Regions from separate parts of the Homo sapiens genome. Here region 1 is linked to region 2. Evidence: fine-mapped expression QTL. A gene starts in region 2. The other region holds a variant in brackets. All regions are shown on one strand. Distances are between the middles of the regions.

Region 1 (5,077 bases), 25 kb before region 2:
GAAACCAGAGGTCCCTCCCCGTCCCCTGTGCAAGCCCAGCAGATGCTCGCGGAGCGCACCGTATCCCTGGGCAAACTTGCTCTGGGCACAGCTACATAGACAAAGCCTGGCAGCCAATCCTGTGCCGCGGAGGGCTTGTCAGAGCCTTCAATGTGCCGTGCGCGCTCCAGCTCTCCACGACGGGCAGCAGCGCCACGTGGCGTTTCCCAGACTCCCACCGAACACCTCAATGGTTGAGAATCTGCAGTACCACGCAGGGAAAGTCTGGGCTGGCTTTCTAAGGGCCCGGCGCCCAGGAAAGGGAGAGTAAGGGGGAGCAGGACCCTTCTGCTGGTCTGGGCTGGCCGAGGCCCTGAGGAGGAGGACGGTGGCAGCGGGGCCCTGCCCATGGATGGCTGCTGCGATCTCCGCACTCCAAGCGGGCACGGAGCACCCCTGAGCTCAGAGGTCAGGGAGAGGGGCCTGGGCCACTGCAGCCCTCTGGGATAACAGAGAAGGGTCCCCGTGTTTCTGTGGTGGGGGGGACAGCTGCCGTCGCCCTGACATTCCTGTCTCTTCAGAACTCAGGGTGTTCTCGAGAGCAGCGGAGTGACGCAGGCAGCCTGGCATCCACCCTTCAGGAAAGGCCTGGCTGTGCTGGGGGCTTCTCTGGGCCCCTAAGAGGATGGGAATGGAGGCTGGCTAGGGGCCCCGGGAGACAGGAATGCAGGGGTGGAGGACGAACCTCGGGGTCAGCCGTGGCACTGGTGATGATCCTCGGAGGGGCCGGGCTGGTCATCTGCTCCCTGGGAAGAGGCTGGTCAGGATGGCCAGGCCAGGCCGGGCTGAGGGACATGGCTGCCAAGAAGAAGAAGGGTGTTGCAGAAAGGGCAAGGGCTGGGGAGCAGAGACCCAGAGCCTCGGGGATCCGGCCCTGGGGGCAGAGCTGACCTCCTGAACGATCTGCGAGCTGGGAGCTGACCCCAGCCCACCCTGCCCCAGAACACCTCGGGGGCCCCACTGGACCTTCTCTGGGGAGTCAGTGGGGCCCGCCCCCGCCTGGTCGATGGGAGAGCCTGCGGCACACCGCTGGGCCACGCCGCGGCCCCTCCTGCAGCAGGGGAGGAGCTGGGAAGGGCTTGAGGCCGCCCCTAACGCAGCTCTGCAGGCCCCAAAGCTGGTTCCCTTGCTGCCTGCAATGCTCCCTGCCCCGATGAAAACACACACTTCAGGGTCAACCTCGAGTGAAGAACACGTCTGCATCACAGCCAGGCAGACACGCACAGACACAATCACACACAGACATGCACAGACACAATCACATACACACAACACAGACACAATCACACAGACACAGACACAATCACATCACATACAGACACAGACACAATCATACACACAGACACAATTATACACACAGATACAATCACAGAAACACACACAGAACAGACACACAAACACAATCACACACAGATACACAATCACACACAGATAGACACAATCACACACATACACACAGACACACAATAACAGTGACACACACAATCACAGACACACAGACACGATCATACACACACAATCACACAATCACACAGACATACAGACACAATCACACACGCAGACACAATCACACACAGATACAGTCACACACAGAGAAACACACAGACACAGAACAGACATACACAAACACAATCACACAGAATCACACACAGATACACAGACACAATCACAGATACACACAGACACAATCATACGCAGAGACACACAGACACAAGCATACACAGACACAATCACATACACACAATCACACAGACACAATCACAGACACAATCACACAGAAACACAGAACAGACACACAGACACGGACACAATCACACACAGATACACACAGACACAATCACAGACACACACAAACACAATCACACAGATACACACAGGCACAATCACACACAGATGCATAGACACAATCACACACAGAAACAGACAGAACAGACACACAATCACACAGATACACACAATCACATAGACACAATCACACACTGACACAGACACACAAACACAAACACACATACACAGGCATAATCATACAGAGACACACAATCACAAAGA[C/GAC]ACACACAGACACAATCACACACACAATCACATACAGACACACAGACACAATCACACACAGATACACAATCATGCACAGAAACACAAACACAATACACAGATGTACAGAACACACAATCACCATACACATACATACAATACAGACACAGACACAATCACAGAGAGACACAATCACAGACACGATCACACACTCGAACACAATCACACACAGATGCACACAGACACAATCACACAGACACAGACACAATCAATCACAGAGACACACAATCACATAGACATAGTCACACACAGACACACATGAACAATCACACACATACACACAGACATAATCACACAGACACACAGACACAGACACAACATACACAGATACACACAGACACAATCACACACAGACACAATCACACACAGAGAAGGGTCCCCGTATCTATGTGTATCACACACAGAACACACAGACACAATCACACACAGAAGCACACTCCCACATGTGAGTACAGGGCCGCAGCAGGGCCCGTGGAGGAAGCTCGCCCTCACTACCTGTGGCACCTGTTGATAATTCCATTCCACTCCACTCCACTCCACTCCACTCCACTCCACTCCACTCCAAGCTGGTCACAGACCCCTAATGGTGGTGGCCCACAGCGTGAGGACTGTTGCTTGCCCTGCTAGCCCATGCATGCGAGGTGTGCTGGGGTCTGAGGGACAGCAGCCCATCCACAAGGGGCCTGGGCCCAACCGGCCCGTCTCCCCGCTTTTACCCCTGGATAAGTTGCTGTAGCTGTAAGTGCCCACCACGGAAAATGCTAATCCTCATGTTTCCAAAGCACCAAAGACAGTCAAGGAAACCTGGAAGCAACTGGGGAGGGAGGGTGATGGGGTGCCCGGCTGCCCGCAGACTTGCCCACCGGTCCAGGACCTCGGAGGGGAGGCCAGTGGCACCCTCTCCCAGGCCCATGCCCTGGGTGGCCCACTTGGGGCTGTGCACTCACGGCTGGGGTTCCCTGGCCCTGGGCCTCCTCTTCTTCCATCCTCCAGGGAGCGCCTCGTGGCCAACAGTGGAGGTGGGGGGAACGGTGGTGGTGGGGGCGTCATCAGCAGGGGCACCTGTGGGTGAATGGGCCTGGTCAGTGGGGGACCCCCGTGGGCTCTTCCCTGCTCACCTAGACAGGGGCAGGGGCACCCAGTGGACGAGCCTTGGGGAGCCTGTGCATCTGAGAAGGGCTGGGACAGGTAAGGAGGTGGCAGGAGAGGGGCAGGTCCTTGATCAGGGTTCTGTCCCAGGGTCATCTCCTGCCTGAGTGCCATCACTTCCTGGCACCCCACCTTGGTTCCCCGCCCACTTTCACCTCTATTGGGTGGGCCACCCCCATCTCAAAGCTCAGCTTCCAGGCTCCCTCTGGAGGCAGCTGAGCTCTGGGGCTCCGGGTACTGGGTTAGGGCCTGGTTTCCAGCTGTGCCCAGCGCCCTGTGGTCTCACAAAGACATGTGCACACATATGCACACACACGCATGTATGCTCTCCTGCACACACATGCATGTACTCTCCTGCACACATGCACGTACACTCTCCTGCACACACACGCACGTACTCTCCTGCACACACGCATGTACACTCTCCTGCACACACATGCATGTACTCTCCTGCACACATGCACGTACTCTCCTGCACACACATGCACGTACTCTCCTGCACACACACACATGTACACTCTCCTGCACACATGCACGTACACTCTCCTGCACACACACGCATGTACCCTCCTGCACACACACGTACACTCTCCTGCACACACACACACGTACTCTCCTGCACACACGCACGTACACTCTCCCGCACACCCCCCTCCCCGACTGCCCTGACTCCTGTGCTGTGGTCCGCCTGGAACTTCAGCCCTGACATGGGGCCTGTCAGTGTCTTGGGGGTGGATGGCCAAGTGAGAAACCTGGTGAGGAGAGGGAAGGGCAGTGGACTAGGATGGGGTCCCCAATGTGCCCACCAGCCGAGGGCATGGGCAGCCCTTGTCCCCAGCCAGCAGGGCCGCATGCCACCGTCCCTCTGGGCACCTCCCCCACTGTGCCTGTCAGACCAAAGCTCTTGTCCCTGCCCTCCAGTGGGCACTGGAAGCCAGACGTGGCCATCAGGGCTCCAGGGTCAGTGCTAGTGAGAGCCCTGGGCAGAGCAGAGCACTCAAATCGGCCACGATTCTGGACATGTGGCCTGGGCCCAGGGCCCGTCGTGGGAGGGGGAGGGACCCATGCTGCAGCTTGCTCGAATGCACGGCTGTCTCTGCCTTCAAATTCGTTCTCCTTTCCGAATGCAGGGCCCCCATTTTCCTGCTGCACCGGGGCCGGACTGCAGTGAAGTTGGCCCTGCCTGAGCAAATCTCTGGCCTCCCTAAGCCTCCCTTGCTCATGGACAAGGTGGCACAGGCTGCCTCCCAGCAAGGATGCTGGGTGGCCCCTCGGCCACCTCCCCTCCAGGACCCTCACCCCACTGGGCCACGGGGAAGGGAACACAGTCTGAAAGCCCATCTGCCCGGCCCCCACGCACCTCACTCCTTCCAGGAATCTGTGCCCACAGCCCAGGAACCCTGGTGCGCGGTGGGCTGGGGAGCAACCGCCCAGCCCCAGCCCCGGAGGCCCTCAGACGCGAACTGCAGAGTGCAGGGAGCACAGCTGTCCTGGGACACCGGGGGCTGCTGAGGCTGCCGCCCCCAGGAGTGGGAGGTGTCACATGAATATTTGAAGGCCGAGGTGTCAGGTGGCCAGGCGGGCTTGGGCCGGGTGTGGGATCTGTTACCACGGAACCTTTAACTGTCCACAGAGCAGGGGCCGGGGAGGGGATGCTCTGGGAGATGGAAGGGGACCTGAGATCCCTGGGCCCCATGAGAAGAGAGACCACCCAGAGGAATCCCCAGCCCCACCTACGGTACGGCCCCCAGGGCACAGATGGGGAAATTGAGGCTCAGAGAGGGCAAGGGGCTTTCTCAAA
Region 2 (5,077 bases):
TGAGACATGGTCTTGCTCTATCGCCCAGGCTGGAGTGCAGTGGCACAATCCCAGCTTACTGCAACCTCCGCCTCCCAGACTCAAGTGATCCTCCCACCTCAGCCTCCTGAGTTGCTGGGACTACAGGCAGTCACCACCATGCCTGGCTAATTTTTAAATAAATTTTTTTGTAGAGATGGAGGTCTCGCTACATTGCCCAGGCCAGTCTTGAATTCCTGGGCTCAAGCAATCCTCCAGCCCCAGCCTCCCAAGATGCTGGGATTACAGGCATGAGCCACTGTGCTCGGCCCAAGTCTCCCAGTTTTCAATGGTGGAAACTTCTTTAAAAGCCGTGTGGGTCTGAGAGAGACTGTGGCCAGCCAAGGCTGAGGGTGGTGTGGACGCTCTGGAGAAAAGCCACAGAAGCGAATCCCAAAGGCCTTTGCCAAGCAGTCCAGGATGGGAACACCCGGGAATGAGAACCCGATTCCACAAGCAAGCTGTCGGGGCTTGTCCTGGAGCTAAGGGGGTGTGGGGGACTGAGGCCTCTGGGGCAGCGACAGGAAAATGAGATGCTGCCTCGAAAAGAGAAGAGCCGTGGTCAGAGGTAGGTGGGTCCCTGGGGGACAGGAAGGTTCGCCCTCAGCCAAGACAGTAGGAGGCAGAGGGCCTGTTCCTATGACAACAGTGACCTTTGTAAGCAGGGCGAGGACTGGAGGAGCTTCCAGGTGGGGAGGGAGGCCATCTGCCTTACTGGCTGTCCTGACCCTGGTCCTTCCTCGTTGCCCATCCACTAATTCCAGCAGGGGGCACAGGGCCCCAGAGACGATGAGGCCAGCGCCCGGCTCTAGGGGTCCCAGCACAGGGGTGGGGCAGTGCAGAGGCAGCTCCAGCCTCTGTGTCCCCAAGTCCACTAGACAGTCCCCACTCCTGTCAGGTGATGGGAGGGTGCCCTCACAGGTTGCCAGCTGCCCACGTCCCCAGCTGTTTTAGGTCCCGAGATGCCCCCAGGTGGGGCCAGAGCTGCCCTGGGCATCACAGCAGCATCTTGCCATCGTCACCGCCCCCAGCCACTCTCCAAGCTGAAGCACTGGCCTGTGTCCCCTTGGGCCCTGGCATGGCACTGCCACTGCCTGGCCTGTGGGTAGAGGCCTCATTGCCCTTGGCTCCTGCCAGCTCACCCCCACAGTGACAGCATGCCCGCCTGCAGGATTCACCTCAAAGGCCACCAGCCTGTCCTCTTGGCCCTCCATGGTGCAGCCTCCCCTTGGCCAGCTCGCCCCAGGCTGCCCCCCCAGGCGGGACTTTGGGCTCCTTACCTGCCATGCGCGGCTGTCAGGAGCTTGAGGCAGGTCAGGTCCCCACTGACGGCAGCGTGGTGCAGCGGCCGGGCTCCCTCCCGGGTCTCTAGCGTGGCCGAGTGGCCCTCGTGGAGCAGCCACTCCACCAGCACTGGGTGTCCAAAACGGGCGGCCAGGTGCAGCGGGGAGACGCCCGAGGCATCTTGGTCCTACCAAGCCCCGGGTAGGTCAGTGAGTGGGGGGTAGGCCGTGAGGTCAGAGCCAGCTGCCGGAGGTGGGCCCTGGGCGAGGGCTCACACTGCCTGCAACCCAGTGAAGGGGCTTCCAGCTCCTTCCTCCTTCCCTCCGTTTCTGCCTGCAACATGGAGGGAGGTGCTCCCTGCTGGGACTGAGGTGAGAGGAGGGCCAGGACTCAGGTCCAGGTCTTGGGAGGCCACCTCTGGCAACCCTGCCCTCTCCTGGGCCCGTCCCCAGTGTGGAGAAGGCCCTTTCCCACGCAGTCGGGTGCCCGCAGACACCTGCCCACTCTGCTCATGGTCAGAAAGGCTTCCCAGGACACCTACCTCTGGCTGGTCCCCTGCCCCAGTGCCCTCCCGCTGGCCACAGGGTCCCGGGGCCAGGGAGCGTTCCTACCACAGGTGTCAGGGGTCCAGCAGACCTGGGCCTTCTCCAAGGGCCCTGTCAGAATGGATCCCCAGGCAGGCACAGCTCCCGCCTGCTGCCCTTGGGTTTGGCGGAAGGGCCGACAGGAACAGGATGCTGGGCCGGGACTCTCAGGTGCTCTGGCGAGCCAGGTGCTGGGGAACCTTCCCGCTCCGCAGTCTAAGCAGGCCCCACCGGCCCCCACCTCAACTCTGACCTCTGGGCGGCGGCGTTCTAAGGCCGGTCAGTCCTGCTCACCCTCAGCCCTGAAAGCTCCACAGGGCTGAGCGACAGCTCTAAGGGCCTCGCCTGCACAAAGGGGACTGGGCAGGCAGGATAGGGGAGGGGGGCCCAGTAGAAACGATCCGGACAAGACGATCACCATCAGCAGCCCTAACTCCCGTCCCCCAGGGCTAGGCTCCCAGCTCTCAAGCCCAAGTTCCCACAGTGCTTCTGTAAGGATCCCTTTCTAGACCCTTTGGGAGGCAGGCCCTGTGGACCAGGCCTGATCAGAGACAGGGGTCCTGATATCTGGCAAGACCCCCACTGGCAACGCCCAGCTTCCTGGCAGGGAAGGTGATAAGAAAATTTAGGAGGTGTTCTTGGCTCTCAAGCCTTTGTGCTCTGAGAGGCGTGGGGCAGAGACGGTAACCACTGACTGAGTCCCCAAGAGAAACAAAGGGCCCAGGGCCATGGAGCCCGGGGTGGCCAGTACTCTGATCCTCCGTGGCTCACACCTCCCTGGTTCCACCCCAGCCAGCTTCGTGGAGCCAGGCTGCCCCATCCCCGCTCACCTGCAGACCGCAGCCCCCCTCGCGGACCAGCCAGCACAGCTCGGCCAGGCTGCCCGTGGCAGCGGCGTCATGCGCTGGGGTGGCCCCGTTGTGGGCCCGCTGGTTGCCGGGCAGCTGGGCCCGCTGCACCAAGAACTTGACGCAGTCCAGGTGGCCAGCCCGGGTGGCGTGGTGAACCAGGCCGGCCCCCAGAGCATCGGTGATGCCCGGGCCCAGGGCGCCAGCCTCCAGCAGCCGCTCCAACGTCGCCACATCCCCATCCTTGGCGGCCACGAGTGCCCGCTGCTTCTCCATCCTCTGGCCCGGGCTCTCAGTGGCGACTCATGCACAGGCTGGGGCTTCCTGTTTCAGACGTGGATGAAGCTGCCGGCTCTGGTTACCCGATAAGCTGCCACAGGGCAGATGGGAGGCGGTGGGGTGGGGTCGGGTGGGGGGACAGGCCTTGAGGACCTGCCCAAGCCACTCCCACAGTGTGAGGGTGCCAGGTGCCTGGAGCTGGGAGGATGGAGTACAGGGCACAGGGAAAGGCCCACACCAGGCTAGGTCAGGGCTGGGTATGGCCAGCAGAGAAAGGAGGCTGGCCCTGAGGCTGCTCAGATCTGTCCAGATGGCAGGAACTTCATCTGTGGAGCGAGGGCTGAGGATACACGCCACTGAGCTTCTCACAGGAGCCCCGAGTGGCCTGGGAGACAGTTCCCCCAACTCTCACAGAAGGGCAGACCCCCAGCCGCCACCACAGTGTGTCTGAAGTAAAGGGTGCCCAGTAGGTCTACATGTTTGGCTGTGTTGACACCCACAGAGCTGAGCGCCCCGCCTCTGGGTCCCGGCCCTCGGCCCTGGAGGCTCCTAGGAATCTCTGGGGACACAGTGGCTCCACGGGGCCTGCAATGGGCTCAGGACCCTGACTTGGGTGTGTCCAGGCCTCTGAGGCGAGAAGGTGTCAGCCCCTGCCTCGGCCCCCTCTCCAACTACACGGACCAAGTCTCTGGGCTGCAGCCCCAAGGGCCCAAGTACATTTAACCCCTTTCCAGATTGTTCTGGACAATCCATAGTTCTTCTTTAGGGAAGTCAGGACCACCACAGCCTCTTCCTGGCAGCAATGGGAAGCTGCAGATGGGGGACCCATTACATTTGTAGGGGCTTCCGGAGACACAGCCTCAAGCTGGATTTCTGGGCTAACGCATCATCACACAATGGTGACCTGGGGGCTGCTGCACCCCTGGCTTCCCCCCGACAGGCTCTGTCAGATGACTTTGTGCCCAAGCGCAGTGCCCACTAGAGAAACCACAGGATCCCCAAGTCGGGCACTGAAATCTTTTATTCGTTAATTTAGTTTCTGGCAAGTGTTTCCTCAAAATCATCAAGTAGTTCCTTGAACCGTAAAACCACACATTAAAAATGTTATTCCACTGAAAATGACTCCTATGCAAATATCGACATGTGATGTGTGTCCAAATGCCAGAGCATTTTGAGAAAAGAATCCTCTGCAAATAAAATTAAGGTAAAAGCTGAGTCAGGGATGATCCGATTCCCACCCCAGGAATGACCTGGAGCTGCACCAACTCAGCGAGGTTGGAGCTGAAACCCTGAGTTAATAATGATCAAAAGGGACAAGACAGGAAGGCCTGGGGACCGTGGACAGGGAAGTGCGCAGCCCTGATTGCCAGTGGGCGGAACAGGGTCAGGCTCGGGGAAGCAGGAGGGGTGGTGGGCGGTGGGCGCTGAGCAGAGCAGGCCTGGCCGAGGCTGGGGGCCACTGTGCACTGAGGCCAGAGGAGCAGGGTGGTGGGGGCAGCTTTGGAAAGGGACTAAAAAGGGCCTGAGAAGAGACCACTCTGGAAAGGTGCATGTAGAGGCCATGATCAAAACAAAAAAATCAAGTTTCCTACGTTCATGATAGCATTTGGCTGACAATGAGTTATAAATACTTGGATTCTATCTTCCAGATAAAAACACCTTCCAGGAAAGGGCACTCACAACAGGCGTGCCCAGTTCCCAGTGGGGAGGGTGGATAAAGCTAAGTGTTTCCGCTTCACCACTGGAGGACGGTTCTATGTGGGCGGTCCCATGTGGGCGGTCCCATGTGGGCGGTCCCATGTGGGCGGTCCTATGTGGGCGGTCCTATGTGGGCGGTCCCATGTGGGCAGTCCTATGCGGCGTTGGTGTCCTGGGCCCTGTGAGCTCTGCAGGGGTCCAGGGAAGGAAACTGGGGGTGCACACTCGCTGGCACTCCAGGACAAAATGCAGAGGGGGCATGAGACAGTCATCCTGGCACAGCCCTCAGGAGGGAACTGGAGGGACAACCCTGTGCCCTGCCACGGGCTTCCCAGAAGCGGGGTGGGGAAGGCGGCCCCAGTGCTA

What was found.
Region 1: its variant is fine-mapped to the expression of ESPNL in fibroblasts (GENCORD, PIP 0.95).

The regions. Positions count from the first base shown.
Region 1 is chr2:238,123,382-238,128,458 of GRCh38, reverse strand. It overlaps ESPNL (espin like), which reads right to left. Exons shown (of 9, transcript NM_194312.4): 6 at 3,075-3,189; 7 at 725-837. Among named protein-coding and RNA genes, the nearest start is that of KLHL30, 13 kb to the left of the region's middle. RefSeq lists a silencer at 995-1,054. The variant C/GAC (reference allele first, on the strand shown) is at 2,089.
Region 2 is chr2:238,098,353-238,103,429 of GRCh38, reverse strand. ESPNL (espin like) reads right to left here and starts at 3,090. Exons shown (of 9, transcript NM_194312.4): 1 at 2,717-3,090; 2 at 1,299-1,489. The coding sequence starts at 3,010. It overlaps SCLY (selenocysteine lyase), which reads right to left. Exons shown (of 12, transcript NM_016510.7): 12 at 4,017-5,077. The coding sequence ends at 5,075. It overlaps UBE2F-SCLY (UBE2F-SCLY readthrough (NMD candidate)), which reads right to left. Exons shown (of 19, transcript NR_037904.1): 19 at 4,017-5,077. RefSeq lists enhancers at 713-882, 4,648-4,942, 4,577-5,077.